2 separate regions of the Homo sapiens genome follow, and region 1 is linked to region 2. Evidence: fine-mapped expression QTL. Tissue or cell type: tibial nerve. Region 2 holds a variant in brackets; the other region holds the start of a gene. All regions are shown on one strand. Distances are from middle to middle.

Region 1 (4,165 bases), 150 kb after region 2:
CAGCTGGAACTTTTCAGGTGTGCACCACCATACTCGGCTAATTTTAAAATAATTTTCACATTTTTTTTTAATAGATACAGAGTCTTGCTATGTTCCTCAGGCTGATCTTGAACTCCTCGGCTCAAGCAATCCTCCTGCCTCAGCCTCCCAAAGTGTTGGGATTACAGACGTGAGCCACTGTGCCCAGCCTGTGTGGACTTTAGAACCTAATCTCTAATAAAGTTGGACTCCTCTGCCTGTTATGCTGTCCACTGACTATCCACTAATTCAATCTGTGGCATTCACTAACTCAGTACCGTGTGTTACAAAGTCCCTACTATGTGTCAGTAACTATTCTACACACCGAAACTAGAGAGATGGATCCAAAGAAGTACCACTCTCAAAGAGGGAACAATATCTTCAATATCTAATATTTGTATAATGTTTTACATCTACAAAGTGTTTTGTAATGCTGATCCAGTTTTATCTACCCAGCATCTCTCATTTTCTGGGATTGCACCTCTGTCTTAGCTTGAGCTACTATAAAAATACCATAGACTGGGTGGCTTAAACAACGGATGTTCATTTCCCAATTCTGGAGCTGGGAGGTCCAAGATCAAGGTACTGGCAGATTTGGTTCTTGGAAGATCCTCTTTCTGGTTTATAGATGACTTTTCACTGTGTTCTCTTATGACCTTTCATTGGTGTATGTGAGGAAATCTCTGTCTTCCTCTTCTTAAAAAGGTGCAAATCCCATTTTGAGGATACCAGCCAAGATCTCATCGAATCCTAATCACCACCAAAGGCACCAACTCCTAACACCAGCACTTTGGGATTTAGGGCTTCAATGTATCAAACTTAGGGGCCTACAAACATTCAGCCCGTAGCAACCCCGTAGCACCCATACCTTTAGGAAATACTCTTTCCCACACTGCAATCCTGTGTTCTCAGTGGGAGCCATCACAGTTTCTAAACTGTGGCTCCCCTGGTCATATTTAATTGACTGAAGTGGGGCCACAAGGCTTGAGTTGGGTCAGTCATGATAATTTTTGCCCACTGTCCAAACTGACCGGTCAATGGAAGAGTACCCAGCCCCAACCTGGCCAATCAAAGTTCTTTCCAGGATTTGTCCACCAGAAACTACAGAAAGAGACTACAGAAAGTGCTGAAGCTCTGTGATCTGTGGCGTGTGAACAGTAGCTGGCCATGTTTCCAGGGAGGAATATGGCACCAGTGCTCAGAGGGCAGCAGGAGTGTGAAGGATGGAGAGAGAGCCTCCTGCAGCAGCTGTTTCTGCCACCCTGAGGGCCTCCATACCGCTGCCTCTTCCAGGGCAATAGGAGATTACCCATAAATTCTTCCTTTTGACTGAGCTGGTTCAAAATGGTTTTCTGGGCCAGACGCAGTGGCTCACACCTGTAATCCCAGCACTTTGGGAGGCTGACGTGGGCAGATCACTTGAGTTCAGGAGTTTGAGACCAGCCTCGCCAACATGGAGAAACCCCATCTCTACTAAAAATACAAAAATTAGCCAAGGGTGAAGGTGGTGCACCTGTGGTCCCAGCTACTCAGGAGGCTGAGGCAGGAGAATCACTTGAACCAGGGAGGTGGAGGTTGCAGTGAGCCAAGATGGCACCACTGCAATCCAACCTGGGGGATAGAGTGAGACTCTGTCTCAAAAAATAAATAAATAAATAAATAAAAATAAAAGATGGTTTTCTCTGTGTCACTTACAACCAAAGTGCCTGAGATATTCTTTTTCAGACATCTTTTCATTTTCTCCTCACCTTGAGGAAGGAGCTCAGAGAGGTTAAGTGAACTGCCCAATATCCCACTGCTCCAGAAGAGAGCAGCAAGAATTCAAATGCTGCTTCACATCCTGGTTCACGCCCTCAAAAGAGGTTTCCCGCCCTGGATGCCAGCCTCTCTCACAGGTGTTTTCTGTACTCTCAGTGGTGTCTTTTTTACAGCCCAGAGCCGCACATGTCCTGTCCGTGTTCCGGTCCTGCGGTGACTCACAGTCACATCACAGTGCAGGCAGACGCTCCCCTGACAGCCCATTGGCTCTTCGTTATCTGACTCCTGCCTACCTCGCCCAGCCCCCTCCTCCTCCCTCCAGCTCATGTGTGCTCCCCATCCAACCCCCTGCGTGAGTCACATGCTGCTCCCTCGGCCAGAGCCTTTGTTTGCCTGCCTTGGAGGCCTGGCATATGCCCCAGTCCCCACCCACCCAGGAAGCCTCCACTGCCACCTACCACCCAGGCGGAGCCCCGGCCTCCTCCTTCCTCTGTGTCTTCCTGGGATCGACCTCCAACCCAGCAGCTGTCTCATTGTTTTCAAATTCCCAACCTCTGCCTTCCAGAATAAAGGCATGTGGGGACAGGGACAGGAACTTCATCTATCTCTAGCCCCCTGCACAATCCCTGCCACATAGTGGTATTCAGTTTGTTGCTCAGGGGATAAACAAGAGCACCAGAAATATGAAGGTCGATGCAAATATCGAGTATTCATATTTCTTTAATAATCCACATTGTTTGGGAGTCAACTGATGTGATGCTTTGAAGCCAGTGAAAGCTGAACGGGCAAATCTGAAATACCTTTTCAGAGATTCATCTGCACTCTATGTACCCAATTAATGCTGAGCCATTAGTCCTTTCCGAAGCTGCCAGGATCTATTAAGCCATTTAACTTATCCTTCCGCACTTCAGGATCAGTCCCAAGGGCATTTTTTCAGGCCTGGGCAGCCAAAGTATAAATGACTTAAGTGGTGAGCTTTCTCTCACTCCCCCTGGGACCCCAGTCCTCCAAAGCAGAGCTTTAATGGCGCTAAAGCACTGTGAAGCGAGGAAGCGCCTAAAGCTGCCACTAGAGTCGGCCTCAACCCTGAAGGAAATCCTGGTTTGGAGCCCTTGCTCAGGGCGGGCCTTCTGAATAACTGCAACAGGAAAGCACCCTCTGTGGGGTGATTGGAATGGTCCCAGGAAAGTCCCCAGGCCTAAGGATGCCCCTCAGGAATTCACAACAGTGCTTGAAATCCCCTCCATTTATCACTTAATAAGTATTTCTTGAGCACCTACTAGGTGCCAGGCACTTAGGGATTCTGACAGGAATCCTTATAGGTTTGTTATTTTGAGCTAACTGAGGCTTTATCCTGAGCTCAAAAGCAAATATCTCTTGGAGGATAACCCACTGAGCATTATCAAGTCATCAAATACCATCCTTCCCAGGACACCACTAAGGAAGGTGGCAGCTGTATGGGGAGGGTCTTAGGACTCATATGGATACAAGTTGCTGGGGAAAAGAAGAGGAGTGAATCCTGTGGAACACAGGCTAACTCCCTGTGTCATGAGTGGCTGCCATGGGTCAGGTCAAAGGCAACTTCCATTTCCCCACCCCTGCAGCCTCATGAAATTGCAGAGAAACAAGCAGGGTGGGCATGTCAAATACACCTCGTTTATCAGATTCGCCTATATTCCTCAACCTGGTATCCCCCCCCCGCTTTTTTTTTTAAGATGGAGTCTCGCTCTATCACCCAGGCTGGAGTGCAGTAGCGTGATCTCAACTCACTGCAACCTCTGCCTCCTGAGTTCAAGTGATTCTCCTACCTCAGCCTCCTGAGTAGCTGGGACTACAGGCGTGCACCACCACGCTCGACTAATTTTTGTATTTTTAGTACAGATGGGGTTTCACCTATTGGCCAGGCTGGTCTTGAACTCCTGACCTCAAGTGATCCACCTGCCTTGGCCTCCCAAAGTGCTGGGATTACAGGTATGAGCCACCGTGCCTGGCCCTGGTCCCATTTTTAATTCTCTTAAGAAATGCTTTAGATCTGCAAGTGGGGTGTGCAGATCTAAGCTTCCTAGGTTTGGCATATAGTTTAGCCTCTGTGAGCAAAACCTATTTAGCCAGGACCAACTCTAAGTTGCACCCATAATAATAACACAACAGCTAGTGCTCTCATTTACCAAGTACCCACTAGATGCCAGGTGCAGTAGTGGATGCTCTGTGTGATTGGTGTTTTGCAATCATGTCAAGGGCATATACTTTTAAGAACCCAACGCTTCGAGGGGATATTTGCTCAAGATCACACAATTAGTCAACAGATGAGGTAAGAGTAAACACAGTCCCCACTTGTGCAACTCCAGGACCCATATTCATGACTATTATGCTGCGGAAATCATGAACC
Region 2 (4,165 bases):
ACCAATATCATCATTTTTAACATAATTATCAATAGATGTTTCTGGAAACCTGGAGAAAGGAGGAGGTAAGTAATTATTTAGCTGAATAAACTGGTATTAATATAGCCTAGCAAAAGACTTGAAAGAATCGTCTTAAATGATTTAGGTAAAAAAATGACTGAAATTTGCATGTTGTTTCTATGTTAGCTAGAGCTCAAAAGTACTTGAAAAAAATTTCCTGAGTGTTTTATTTACAATTTCCTTTCACTATTAAAATTTTATGAAAACTCATTTGATTAGAGATAGTACAAAACTAAATTCTAGCCAGTACTAGTGTGAATGGCACAAGATTTAAAACCAGCAGAATCCGAGTGGATGTGGTTTTTCTCCTTATGTGCGTTCGTGTGTGTGTAGCATGACATTTATACCTAGCCCACCCAGAGACCAAAACAAGGTGCTCATAGGAGAACCAAGCATCTTGGGGTCAGTCACTTTTAATCAAATTAATGTAAACTTAGCAGAACAAAACCTTCTCTACCAGATAAAAGCTGTTGGGCCTGTGGGCTACTTGGGTTAGAAACATTCTTCAACCTTTTTACAACCATAGTACAGAACTACGTTTTTATTCCCCTCCCAATAATTCTGGGCATATCTTTGGTAAGGCACTTATTGTCACGAAGTAGTATCCTGGAGAAAATATCTCCTATTTAGGGTTCAGGAAATAGATCTTTTTAAAAATTCTGGGTTACCACTGAGTACAGACTGTGGGAGAGGAATGACACGACCCCACGCCGTTTACTTTGTCTGTCCTTGGCTGTGGTTCCTCCTTTTGATGGAGTCACCAATTAGGAATCCAAGTCGGCGCAGAGTTCAGTATTCATGAGGGTTTGGGCGGGCAGCGGCATGGAGTACCCAGGGATTCCAACATATTCTCATGACTGAGACACTTTGAGGGAGCCTGACTGGGTAACAGAGAACAGCCCTGACCTTTCAACCCGATGAATTCAAATGCAATTTGTCATCCAATGTAAAATGAATCTGACCATGTGTAATCCCGTAGGATGGAGAGGCCTTGTCCCGGAAAAACTCCAGAACATGAAAGAGGGGCATTGAAAAATAAAACCCACCAAATGGTTAAGGGCACACATCGATATGTCAATAACAAATTCCTTTTTCCAAAATAATGAACAGCCCTGTGATTCCTTGGGCAGGGTAGACACCATGAACACACACAGGAGTCGAAGTGGGGAGTTGCTGCTCTTTTTTTTTCTCCTTGGAATTTGAAATACGTTTTCATATTTGCTTTTCACTCTCTCCTTTTTAACGTTTAAAATTAAGCCATCCTGTGCTGGTTATTGTGTTCTCCTCCTCTTTGTAACCACCGAAGAAGAAAGCTTGAATTGTTACTGTCTCTCTCTTATTTCTGAAACTGCTTTCTCTGGGGAACTTTCTGAATGGATCAGGGCCTGGATCAGGGCAGGATAGAACACACCCTCTGGGAGAGGCTCAGAGAGCCAAACCTGAGATCAAAGCACCCAATCTCTCAAATTCTCTGAGGAAGTGTCCTGGTAGTTCCAGGACCTACTCTGCTTTTTCCACCCAGGGAGCTTTCAGCTGCCTTAGCATTATTTCAAAGAGTATTTTCAAAGTAAATCTCCTGGAGCTGGGTGCAGGGGCACATGCCTATAGTCCCAGCTTGGACTGCTTGAGCCAAGCAGTAAGTTATCAAGGCAACAGTGAGCTATGATTGCACCACTACATTCCAGCCTGGGTAACAGAGTGAGACCCAAACTCTAACCCACCCCTCGACAAAAAAAAAGTAAATCTCTTTTCTGCTATTGTTTCCAGTATGCTTAAGCGTCACCATTAATTGGGTAGCAATTATAAAGGCTGGAATGGCCTGCAAGCCCTGTGAATTATGACATGCATTGTTCCTTTGGCATTTGAATTTCATCATTAACGTCCATTTGAAAGCTTACAATTATGAAATAGAGTGATCTTGTAAATAACTACAAATAATTCACTGTGTGTGAGCACAAGCACACACTTAT[G/T]CCTAGAAGTCATTTGGTCGATAAGAGTAAAGAAACAAAGACTTCTACAGCTTTAACCTCTGTCCTCTCTATTTTCTCTTGAAGTGTTTTTGAATTTCTTCCCTTGCAAGATCAACAAAATATTCAAGTCTGCGGGAGGGGAGAGGCTGGAGACAAGTGGGTTGAAGGGTACAAACATACAGTTAGATAGAAGGGATACATTCAATGTCTGAGAGCAGAGTAGGGTGACTATAGTTAAGAAAAATGTTTTATACTCGGGTGATGGACACCCTAAATACCCTGAGTTGATCACTACGCATTATATACATGTAACACAATTTCACATGTACCCCATTAATTTGTATAAATTTTTTTTTAAATTCAAAGGTCTCACCCCAACCTGTCAGAGACATCTCTTAAGCCACAATAAGTTAACATCAGTCTTGCCATTTGTAATTATAGAAGAAATATCTCCACTTTCTAGACTTCTACTTTCATGAGGAGCTCAGTGGCCAGGAATGGACCATGACCCAGTGGAATTGTTATGATTTGGAATATTTGAAAAGGTGAACTTTTATCTAAACAGGGTGGTCATGAAAACTATGCTGCATTATTTTCTTTCCCACTTTTATTGTTAAAATAATTGCATTTTGTTACTGTTAAAATATAACAGGAAGAAATTTGCTGCATATCTTTGTTATAAAACATGTTTGCGGCTGGGCGCGGTGGCTCACGCCTGTAATCCCAACACTTTGGGAGGCTGAGGCGGGCAGATCACGACGTCAAGAGTTCAAGACCAGCCTGGCCAACATGGTGAAACCCTGTCTCTACTAAAAATACAAAAACTAGCCGGACGTGGTGGCAGGCACCTATAGTCCCAGCTTCTCAGGAGGCTGAGGCAGGAAAATCGCTCGGACCCAGGAGGTGGAGGGTGCAGCGAGCCGAGATGGCACCACTGCACTCCAGTCTGGGCGACAGAGAGAGACTCCATCTCAAGAAAAAAAAAAGAAAGAAAAAAAAAAGAAAGAAAAAAGAAAACCTGTTTGCCTCCCTTCCCCATCTTTCTCACCTCCCCATACAGAGCTGATGTCCCAGTCACTAATTTTTCACAATCCTGCAATAATGACACACATATTCATACCTTCAAGCCAACCAATGGGCTGTGTTTCCACAACTTGAAATGACCTTCTTGACCTCGTAAAGCCTCCTCCAAATGTTCATACTCCCCTGTAACTCACAAACAGAATTAGGTGCTCTGACCTGTTTTCTCACACAGAATTTTACACACACCTCCATGTCTGCACTTAACCTCTCAATTGGACTCGGCTGCTTACAGGTCTTTCTTTCCCTCAGTGAAGAGCCAAAACACCTATTCATCTCAGCACTCTTATTTTTTTAATTTGTGTCATTTTAATAGAGTATGTCAACCTAGATAACAAACAGAGGGAAACTCTCTAAAGCAAAATGACATTTATTTGGGAATGGGCATTGCAATGGGAATACATGTGCCATAGTAAACTGTGTGTTCAGGGAGATAAAGGAAGATTTTTAAAGAAAAAAGGAGGATTATATAATTATTTTGCGATAATTATCCTTGGCCACACAGATCAATAACAAGGTGGTACCAGTCCGAGGCTGGATAGGAAGTTTTTGGGCAAGTGTCTTCAGCAGAAGTTTTTTTTTTTCTTTTTTTTGAAATGTAAGGTTGCAATGGCCTTTGTGCAATGAAAGGTTGTGGTTTTGGTAGAGTCTTGTATTACTTTTTTGCTGTTTTTGTTTTTGAGAAAAGGTCTCCTCTGTTGGCCAGACTGGAGTGCAGTGGTGCAATCACAGCTCATTGCAGCCTCCATCTCCCGGGCTCAAGCAATCAAGCAATCCTCCCACCTCAGCCTCCCGAGGAACTGGGACTAGAAGTGTGAGACATCACACCAGGTAATTTTTAAATTTTTCTGTAGAGACAAGGTTTCATTGTGTTGCCCAGACTGGTCTTGAACTCCCGAGCTCAAGCGATCTTCCCTCCTCTTGCTGGGATTGCAGGCATGAGCCGTTGCACCCGGCCTTGATAGTTCTTGTTATCAGGCATTCGTGCATGAGATCCCTTCCTTCATGGCCTTCCCCAGCTCTGTTTGTCAGAAGTTTTAACACAATTGACTCCA

Which allele goes with the higher level. Positions count from the first base shown, and alleles are read on the strand shown. Sizes are in standard deviations (SD) of each study's normalised expression.
In carriers of allele G in region 2, the expression in tibial nerve of the gene that starts at base 1,936 in region 1 tends to be higher than with T alone (small effect, 0.32 SD a copy in GTEx).

The links. PIP is the estimated chance that this variant, and not a neighbour inherited with it, causes the effect. A credible set is the group of variants that fine-mapping cannot tell apart.
Region 1: RDH10-AS1 starts here. The variant in region 2 is the best candidate, but not a certain one, in a credible set for the expression of RDH10-AS1 in tibial nerve (GTEx, PIP 0.57).

Annotation. Positions count from the first base shown.
Region 1 is chr8:73,354,526-73,358,690 of GRCh38, forward strand. It overlaps RDH10-AS1 (RDH10 antisense RNA 1), which reads right to left and starts at 1,936. Exons shown (of 6, transcript NR_125388.1): 1 at 1,767-1,936.
Region 2 is chr8:73,202,138-73,206,302 of GRCh38, forward strand. LOC107986891 (a long non-coding RNA gene) reads right to left here and starts at 3,222. Exons shown (of 3, transcript XR_001745719.1): 1 at 3,151-3,222. The variant G/T (reference allele first, on the strand shown) is at 2,031.